Homo sapiens: one gene and its partner. The protein of the gene in region 1 purifies or fractionates together with the protein of each later gene. This does not show direct contact. Each region holds a gene or a part of one and is shown in the gene's direction. Other genes may lie near its edges. The genes, in order: ZNF578 and SMARCAD1.

The links.
Region 2: the proteins of ZNF578 (region 1) and SMARCAD1 purify together in Homo sapiens (co-immunoprecipitation; one large-scale study listed by IntAct). This does not show direct contact.

The regions. Positions count from the first base shown.
Region 1 is NC_000019.10:52,456,253-52,460,078, forward strand, and holds part of ZNF578 (zinc finger protein 578), read left to right. Parts: intron 1-424; exon of another isoform or gene 425-484; intron 485-615; 5' UTR 616-706; intron 707-3,826. UniProt on the Homo sapiens protein: May be involved in transcriptional regulation.
Region 2 is NC_000004.12:94,273,598-94,277,423, forward strand, and holds part of SMARCAD1 (SWI/SNF-related matrix-associated actin-dependent regulator of chromatin subfamily A containing DEAD/H box 1), read left to right. Parts: intron 1-19; coding exon 20-119; intron 120-1,140; coding exon 1,141-1,200; intron 1,201-1,292; coding exon 1,293-1,368; intron 1,369-2,741; coding exon 2,742-2,877; intron 2,878-3,424; coding exon 3,425-3,562; intron 3,563-3,826. UniProt on the Homo sapiens protein: DNA helicase that possesses intrinsic ATP-dependent nucleosome-remodeling activity and is both required for DNA repair and heterochromatin organization.

The DNA.
Region 1 (3,826 bases):
CAAGGACCCAAGGGGAGACCAGAGCCAGAAGATAGGGGTTGTTCTGGGCTTGCTCCCTCTGAGTTTAGCTCAACCCTGGATTCGCATTAGAATGCTGAGACATTTTGCAAATATATCTCTTGTGCCTCCTTTCCAGAGATTCCCATGCATGTAGGTTCAAGCGCAGTGTCCCACATGATTCTAATCTGTATTCATCATTGAACATCAGGGTGCTGTGTCTTCCATTTCTGAAAGCTGATATCGGCCTGTGATCCACAGAGAGGGGAGAGGCTGTGCTCTGCATGGGGTTTGGTCAGGGCCAGATCTGTGCCCTGAAGGGGAGCTCAGTCCAGCCCAGCACCCCACAGCTGCAGCATGTATGTGGGCTTCTCCAGGTGGGGAGTAAGCTTTGAAGAACTCAAAAACTGACTTGTTCTTCCTGTAGGACTTTCTTGTCTGCATCATCCCTGGTGCTGTGGGCAGCAGAGGGCCATCTTTCCACAGGGCGAGGTCTTTCCTGTGTATGTGGTTGTGGCACAGGGAGGGGGTGTGTTGATTTTGAGCAGTAAACAGCATATTTTGAACACTCAGGATTAACTTGTTTTTTAAAAAGTTTTCTTTTTCTTTTTCTTTCAGGATTAGCTTCTAAAGTCTCTTTCATCTCTCCTAAGGAAGAAGCCTAGAAGAGGAGGAAGAGGAAAGAAAAGGAGTCAGGAATGCCTCTTAGGTACAGTGATATTCTCAGTGGACTGTTGTGTGTCTCCTTCCTTTCTGAAATGCCATGTGTGGTGTTATGATATATATTGGTTTCCATCGACGGTTCCTGGCTTATAACCTCCATAGCCCTTGTTACAATCTTTTGTTGTAATGTTGGATGTGTTAAGCCTCAGGGGTAGGCCTCTGACCTTCTTTTGCCTTCCTTTCACTCTGATGCTCCCCAGCCTTTCTAATTGTGGGTCTTAAGACCCTCCTCCGAGAGCTTCCCACCCTGTACCCTGGGGGGAAGAATGTTGATGTCATGAAACTTCCATAAAAACCCAAAAGGGCAAAGTTCGATGAGCTTCTGGATGGCTGAACACGTGGAGGTTCTTGGAGGTAGTAAGCCCAGGGGCGTCATGGAAGCCCTGCACTCCTTCCTCCATACCTTGCTGTAGGTGCCTCTTCGTCTGTATCCTTTGCAGTATCCTTTATAATAAACTGGTAAAGGTAAGTAAGTGCTTCCCTGAGTTCTGTGAGCCAATCTAGCAAATTAATTGAAGAGGGGGTCGTGTGAACCCCAGTTTGAAGCTGGGTGGTCATAAGTTCTGAAGGCCTGGACTTGCGACTGGTGTGTATGGAGGCAATCTTGGAGACTGAGCCATCAACTCGTGGGATCTGACGTCTCCAGTCTTAATGTACACAGTAGATAGTGTTGGAATTAAACTGGAAGATACCCAGCTAGTGTCTGCTGCTTGGTGTGTGGGGAAAGTACCCACATACATTTAGTCACAGAGGTCTTCTATGTTGATGATTGTTGTGGTGTGAGAGTAGAGGAAAAGCACAATTTGAGGAGAGCTTTTCCCTGTACACATCAGGCATTGGAGATGTCAGTCTTCTCTGAGTCTGAAGCATGCTGCCTGTGATGTTTGCTCACACTCACCCATGTCTTCCCTCAGGCCCTCTGATGTCACTTAAATTCCATCTCACAGTGACTGGTGCTGTGGAATTTGTGAAGAGGCTCCATTGGGAAGGGCTTATACCCAGACATGGATGGAGACGGGGTGTGGGCCCCATGGTGTCACTGCTCTTGGGCAGCAGGAATTGAAGGATTGTTTAAGGGCCAGGTCTGGAGGCACTGCCAGCTCTGTAGACTGGATTATGGAAGCTGCTCGTGGAAGTCTTAATGTGCACAACTGCCTGATAAAATTTGGAAGAAGAGATTAGGAAGAGGAAATCTTTTCTGCCTGATTTTATACTCCATTTGTAGTAAATGTTTAACAGCAAGAGATTCTTTAAACCATTCTAAGTACATCCATCCTATGGAGATTGTGGTATTCCTGCAGAGACTCTTGTGAAACAGATGTTTCAGGTGAAAATGGTAAGACTTGGGTAATACTTCTTCTAGGATGGGGCATTTCCTATTTTCTTAGATCTCTCAAGGTTCCCCTGTTATCCCCAGCTGCAGGGGTACCTCTCCTATCAAGAACATGTGAAATTTTGCCCTCATTAAAAAAAAAACAACAACTTGCTACTATGTTTATATATATATATATTTTGAAAATCTGGGAAAAATGACAACCCTCTGTATTTTCATTTTTCAATTTATTGTCTACATAGGTTTTATTATTTTGGGGACATGTATATACAAAATGAATTTTCATGCTTTGCTCAATTTTCTTTCCATGTATTTTAGTATGTGTTTTAATTTCTGTGGTTTTTATTTCTTTCATATGCCCTGATGTCTTTTATTTCAGGTTATACATTTTTTAATTGTAAGACAAATCTTTCATTTATACCTTCTGATTTTTGTTGTGCCTTTGTTTGTTTCATCTTGATTTGGAAGGCCTTGCATGATTATGAAGTACTAAGTTTCATTTAGGAATAAAGTTTTGTTGTTTAAAATTTTGTTTACATTTGTGTTTAATTTGAATTTTTGCGTATATCATAAGTATTTGATTTGTTGTAAAATTACAGATGTTTGTCATAAGAGGTTCTTACATATTTGGAAAACCCCTCCATTTTGTTTTTCTTTTCAAAATTGTGATGGTTCTCCTTTCACAGGGCACAGTCATTAAAAACTCATATATTTCTTTTGTGTTTGAATGGCTGTGGATTCCTAGTCAGAGAGGTCTTTGTGTCACCACATCTGCTAATAAGAATTGGGTTTTCCGGTCCATGATGCTCTTTGTTATGTCTTTTAGTAAAGTTTATTTGCCTGTTTATAGTTCAGTAATGTTAAGTATGTTCACGTTACTGTGCAACATATCTAGAAGTTTTTCATCTCGCAAAACTGAAACTGTATACCCAGAATACACTATATCCCTTCTGACCTCACTATAGCCTCTGTCAACCCATCTTTCTATGTTGTTTATATGCATTTGACTACTTTAGTATCCCACGTGAGTGGAATCACATAGTATTTGTCCTTTTGTGACTGTCTTATTTTCCCTAGTGTAATGTCCTCAAGGTTCATCCGTGTTGTAGCATATGACAGGATTTTCTCCTTTTATAAAGCTGAATAATATTCCATTGCATGTGTATAACACATTTTCTTTATCCATTCATCTGTAGATAGGCATGTTGGTTTTTCTGTCTTCTTGGCTATTGTATATAATGCTGTGATGAGCAGGGATTTGCAAATATCTCTTTGAGGGCCTGCTTTCAAGTCTTTAATGTGTATGTACACACACACACACACACACACACACACACACACACACATATATATACTACCATATGATCCAGCAGTCTCACTTCTGGGTATGAGTGTGTATATGTAGATATGTGTGTGTGTGTGTGTGTGTGTGTGTGTGTGTGTGTGTATATATATATATATATATTTTTTTTTTTTTTTTTTTTTTTTGAGATGGAGTCTTACTCTGTCACCAGGCTGGAGTGCAGTGGTGCGATCTTGGCTCACTGCAACCTCTGCCTCCTAGGTTCAAGTGATTCTCCTGCCTCAGCCTTCCAAGTACTACAGGTGCGTGCCACCATGCCCAGCTAATTTTGTATTTTTATTAGAGACGGGGTTTCACCATGTTGGCCAGGATGGTCTCAATCTGTTGACCTCGTGATCCACCCACCTCAGCTTCCCAAAGTGCTGGGATTACAGGCATAGCCACCGTGCCTGGCCAGATGTATATTTTCA
Region 2 (3,826 bases), on another chromosome or scaffold:
TGTCTTTTAAACTTTTTAGGGCCTAGGAAAAACTATTCAAGCCATTGCATTTCTGGCATACCTCTATCAGGAGGGTAATAATGGTCCTCATTTGATCGTTGTTCCAGCTTCAACTATAGGTTTGTAATACTGGAGACAACTGTATTTAACTTTATCATGTTTTATATAGGTAGAAGAGAGTGTGTGTAAGGGTGTGTGTCGGAGGGGTGTTGTGGTTTCTTAGTTTGTAGAGATGAATATTAATTTTATGGTCTCTTTATACTTTTCTCCTTTGTTTATATATGTGTGTTTGATTATATTGGCAGTCTTTTAAAAAGAACTCAAATGTAAGTCAGTTTTAAAATTTTAGACCAAGGACGATTTATGTTGGTTTCATAATACTTTTAGTTACTTTTAAAAGTGACTAAGAGAAAATGAGTACTTTTAAATGTAGAATTAAACAGATACGTAATTAATTCCTACACACATAACTGTTCCATTCTTTCTCAATTCGTTGGATGTAGAAGTTAGAATAAGAGAATATTTGTACATGTGAATGTAACAAAGAAAACCCCCTTCTCTTTAAATTGGAGGTTAATAATCAACTGTAAATATAATATTTGGTCATCTGCCCTTCATTTTGATGCCTCACAAAACCTCAAGATCATTTTACATAGGTTTCATAAGGAGTAATATTGTAAAGGGTCTGTGATAAAAACAATCGCCATGGTATTTATATTTTAATTTTTAATTTTTATTTATTTTTTTTAAGACAGTCTCGCTGTGTCACCCAGGCTGGAGTGTGGTGGCTCAATCTTGGCTCACCGCAACCTCCGCCTCCCAGGTTCTCGTGCCTCAGCCTCCCGAGTAGCTGGGACTACAGGCGCCCGCCACCATGCCTGGCTAATTTTTGTATTTTTAGTGGAGATGGGGTTTCACCATGTTGGCCAGGCTGGTATCAAACTCCTGACCTCAGGTGATCCACCCGCCTCAGCTTCCCAAAGTGTTGGGATTACAGGCATGAGCCACCTTGCTGGGCCAGTATTTACTTTTTATAAAAGACTGATTTCTGAGTAGCACTTGTCAAAGTTTAGTGTTAATTTAACCATGTGAACATACCCTATTGTAGCAGATGCAAATAATGTCTCTTCTGTTCCATAGATAACTGGTTAAGGGAAGTTAATTTATGGTGCCCTACTTTGAAGGTCCTCTGTTACTATGGTAAGAATATGTCATTCTGCTTTTAACTTTGGAAATTAAAAATAAAGTACAGCACAATAAATAGTCATGTGTTTATTGTTTTTAAATTCTAGGTTCTCAAGAAGAACGTAAACAAATTAGATTTAACATTCATAGTAGATATGAAGATTACAATGTAATTGTGACCACGTAAGTATTGAGAAATTTGGGGAGGATGGATATTTATGCAGCCCCCAAATTTAAAAAAGAAATTGTAGTAGTACTATGTAGGAAAGTTTATGCTGTTAACTGTGATACGAAAGTAATAGAATGACTAATGTTGAGGATTCAGGCATTTTTTAGTTTGGTGTGTAATACCCATATAGGAGGTTTTTGTTAGTGAATCACCTCATTAATGGTGACTATAAAAAGGTTTTGCCTAGTTATTGAAAAAAGTCGTCTTGTAATAGTAATTTCTCAGTTAAGCTTAAAGTAAAATTTGAGATATCCCACCAAAATTATTTATATTTTTAACTTACAAATAAGTATCTGTAATAAATACAATGAAATTTCATTTTCTCAATGAAAAATTTGAGTTAGGGCAGAAATAAAAATGAAAAATAATACTAATAATACTACTTGGTAATAATTGATGTAAATATCTTGCACAGAACTTAATGCTCTTGTGTTACATTAGTTGATTTATTTAAAGTTCTATTTTAACTGTAGTTATTATTTCTCTCTACTGGCTTCTTGTGTAGGAGTCTGTCCTTTAAAAATTCATGCGGAATTTTATTTTTTCTTAATAAAACAGGCTCCATATGCAGTCTCAAGCTGCTAGCTATTAACTATTATTTCTTGGATCTAATCTGCTAGTTTAATAAAATATTAAGTTTTAAAGAGAAACATGTTTTAGCTTCACGTTCTTTTTTGTGCTTATTAAAATATAACACTTCATGGAGCAGATTACTTACAAGTTATACCCAAATTGACCTCCTCCTGGGTATGTAGAAGTTGTCCGATTGTAACATTAACATTTTCTTTTTTTTTTTTTTTTTTGAGACGGAGTCTCACTCTGTCCCCCAGGCTAGAGTGCAGTGGCGCGATCTCAGCTTACTGCAACCTCTTGCCTCCCGGGTTCACGCCATTCTCCTGCCTCAGCCTCCTGAATAGCTGGGACTACAGGCGCCCACCACCACACCCGGCTAATTTTTTATATTTTTAGTAGAGACAGGGTTTCACCGTGTTAGCCAGGATGGTCTCGATCTTCTGACCTCGTGATCCGCCCGCCTCGGCCTCCAAAAGTGCTGGGATTACAGGTGTGAGCCACCGCTCCCAGCCTTTTAACATTTTCTTTCAATTATGTATTGCAGCTTTCATAGCTTGGTTACAGTGTACATCAATAATTATTAAATACAAGTACGTCAGTATTTATTTGAGTATCACCCGTGTCTAGTGCTGTGCTTTAAGTACTGGCTGTTAGAAATGTGTAAATAAAAAATGATTTTATAAGACATTAAATTTCACTAGACTCCAAGCTCTTAAAGGTATAACCTTAGAGATGTTTTTTCTTTTGGTGACAGATATAACTGTGCGATCAGCAGTTCTGATGACCGTAGTCTGTTTCGACGGCTGAAACTTAATTACGCAATTTTTGATGAGGGCCATATGCTGAAGAATATGGGCTCCATTCGCTACCAGCACCTTATGACAATTAATGTAAGAGAATGTTTGTAAAGTTTTCCAAATTACTGTAAAATTTAGATTACGTAATTTAATATATGTAGTATTTATTAGCAGAATCTGTATTATGTAGTTTAATATATGTAGTATTCTGTGTTAGCAAGTTTTTTCTGTAAAAGGGAAGATAGTAAATATTTCACACTTTATGGACTAGATGGCCTCTGTCACGTATTCTTTGATTTTGTTTTTTAACAACCCTTTAAAAAATTATTAGGTCATAAGCCATAATTTACCTGTTCTATATGTTAAACTATTTATAAATAATCTTTCATCATCTCATAAAGGTGATACGAGGACACAAGTTACCTACTTATAAAAGAAGACCAATGGTTTTCGTATTCATTGCTGTTGATAATAGCGGACGTCAATTATTTAAATTACTATATCATTTATCACAGAATGTTAAATTATTAATAATGGTTTTAATTTATCTCTCCTCCCTTCACCTTTCACTGGGGAGGATAGACATGAAAGGAGTGGCTCTTTAAGAAAAAGCTAATATAAATTTTACCTTCATTCACAGGCAAATAACCGTTTGCTGCTCACAGGCACACCTGTACAGAACAATCTGTTAGAACTCATGTCGCTGTTGAATTTTGTTATGCCACACATGTTTAGTAGTAGCACCAGTGAAATACGAAGAATGTTTTCCTCTAAGACAGTAAGCATAAATGCATATTTTCTCCCAAATATGTTATTTGTGTTTTATCTGGGCCATTCTTCTGTTAGGTCTCTTTTGTTGTTTTCATAGTGCATATGCTCTATGAAGTAACTTTAAGTAGGTGATAACTCTATATTTGGATTGGTTTGGAAACCAGCCAAAATATAATGGGAAAGAAAATAGCAATTTCCCTAATCAATGGCCAGAAGTCTTGGTTAATATCCTAATTTTCTGAAGGATGACGATTTTAAATTGATGAAGAGC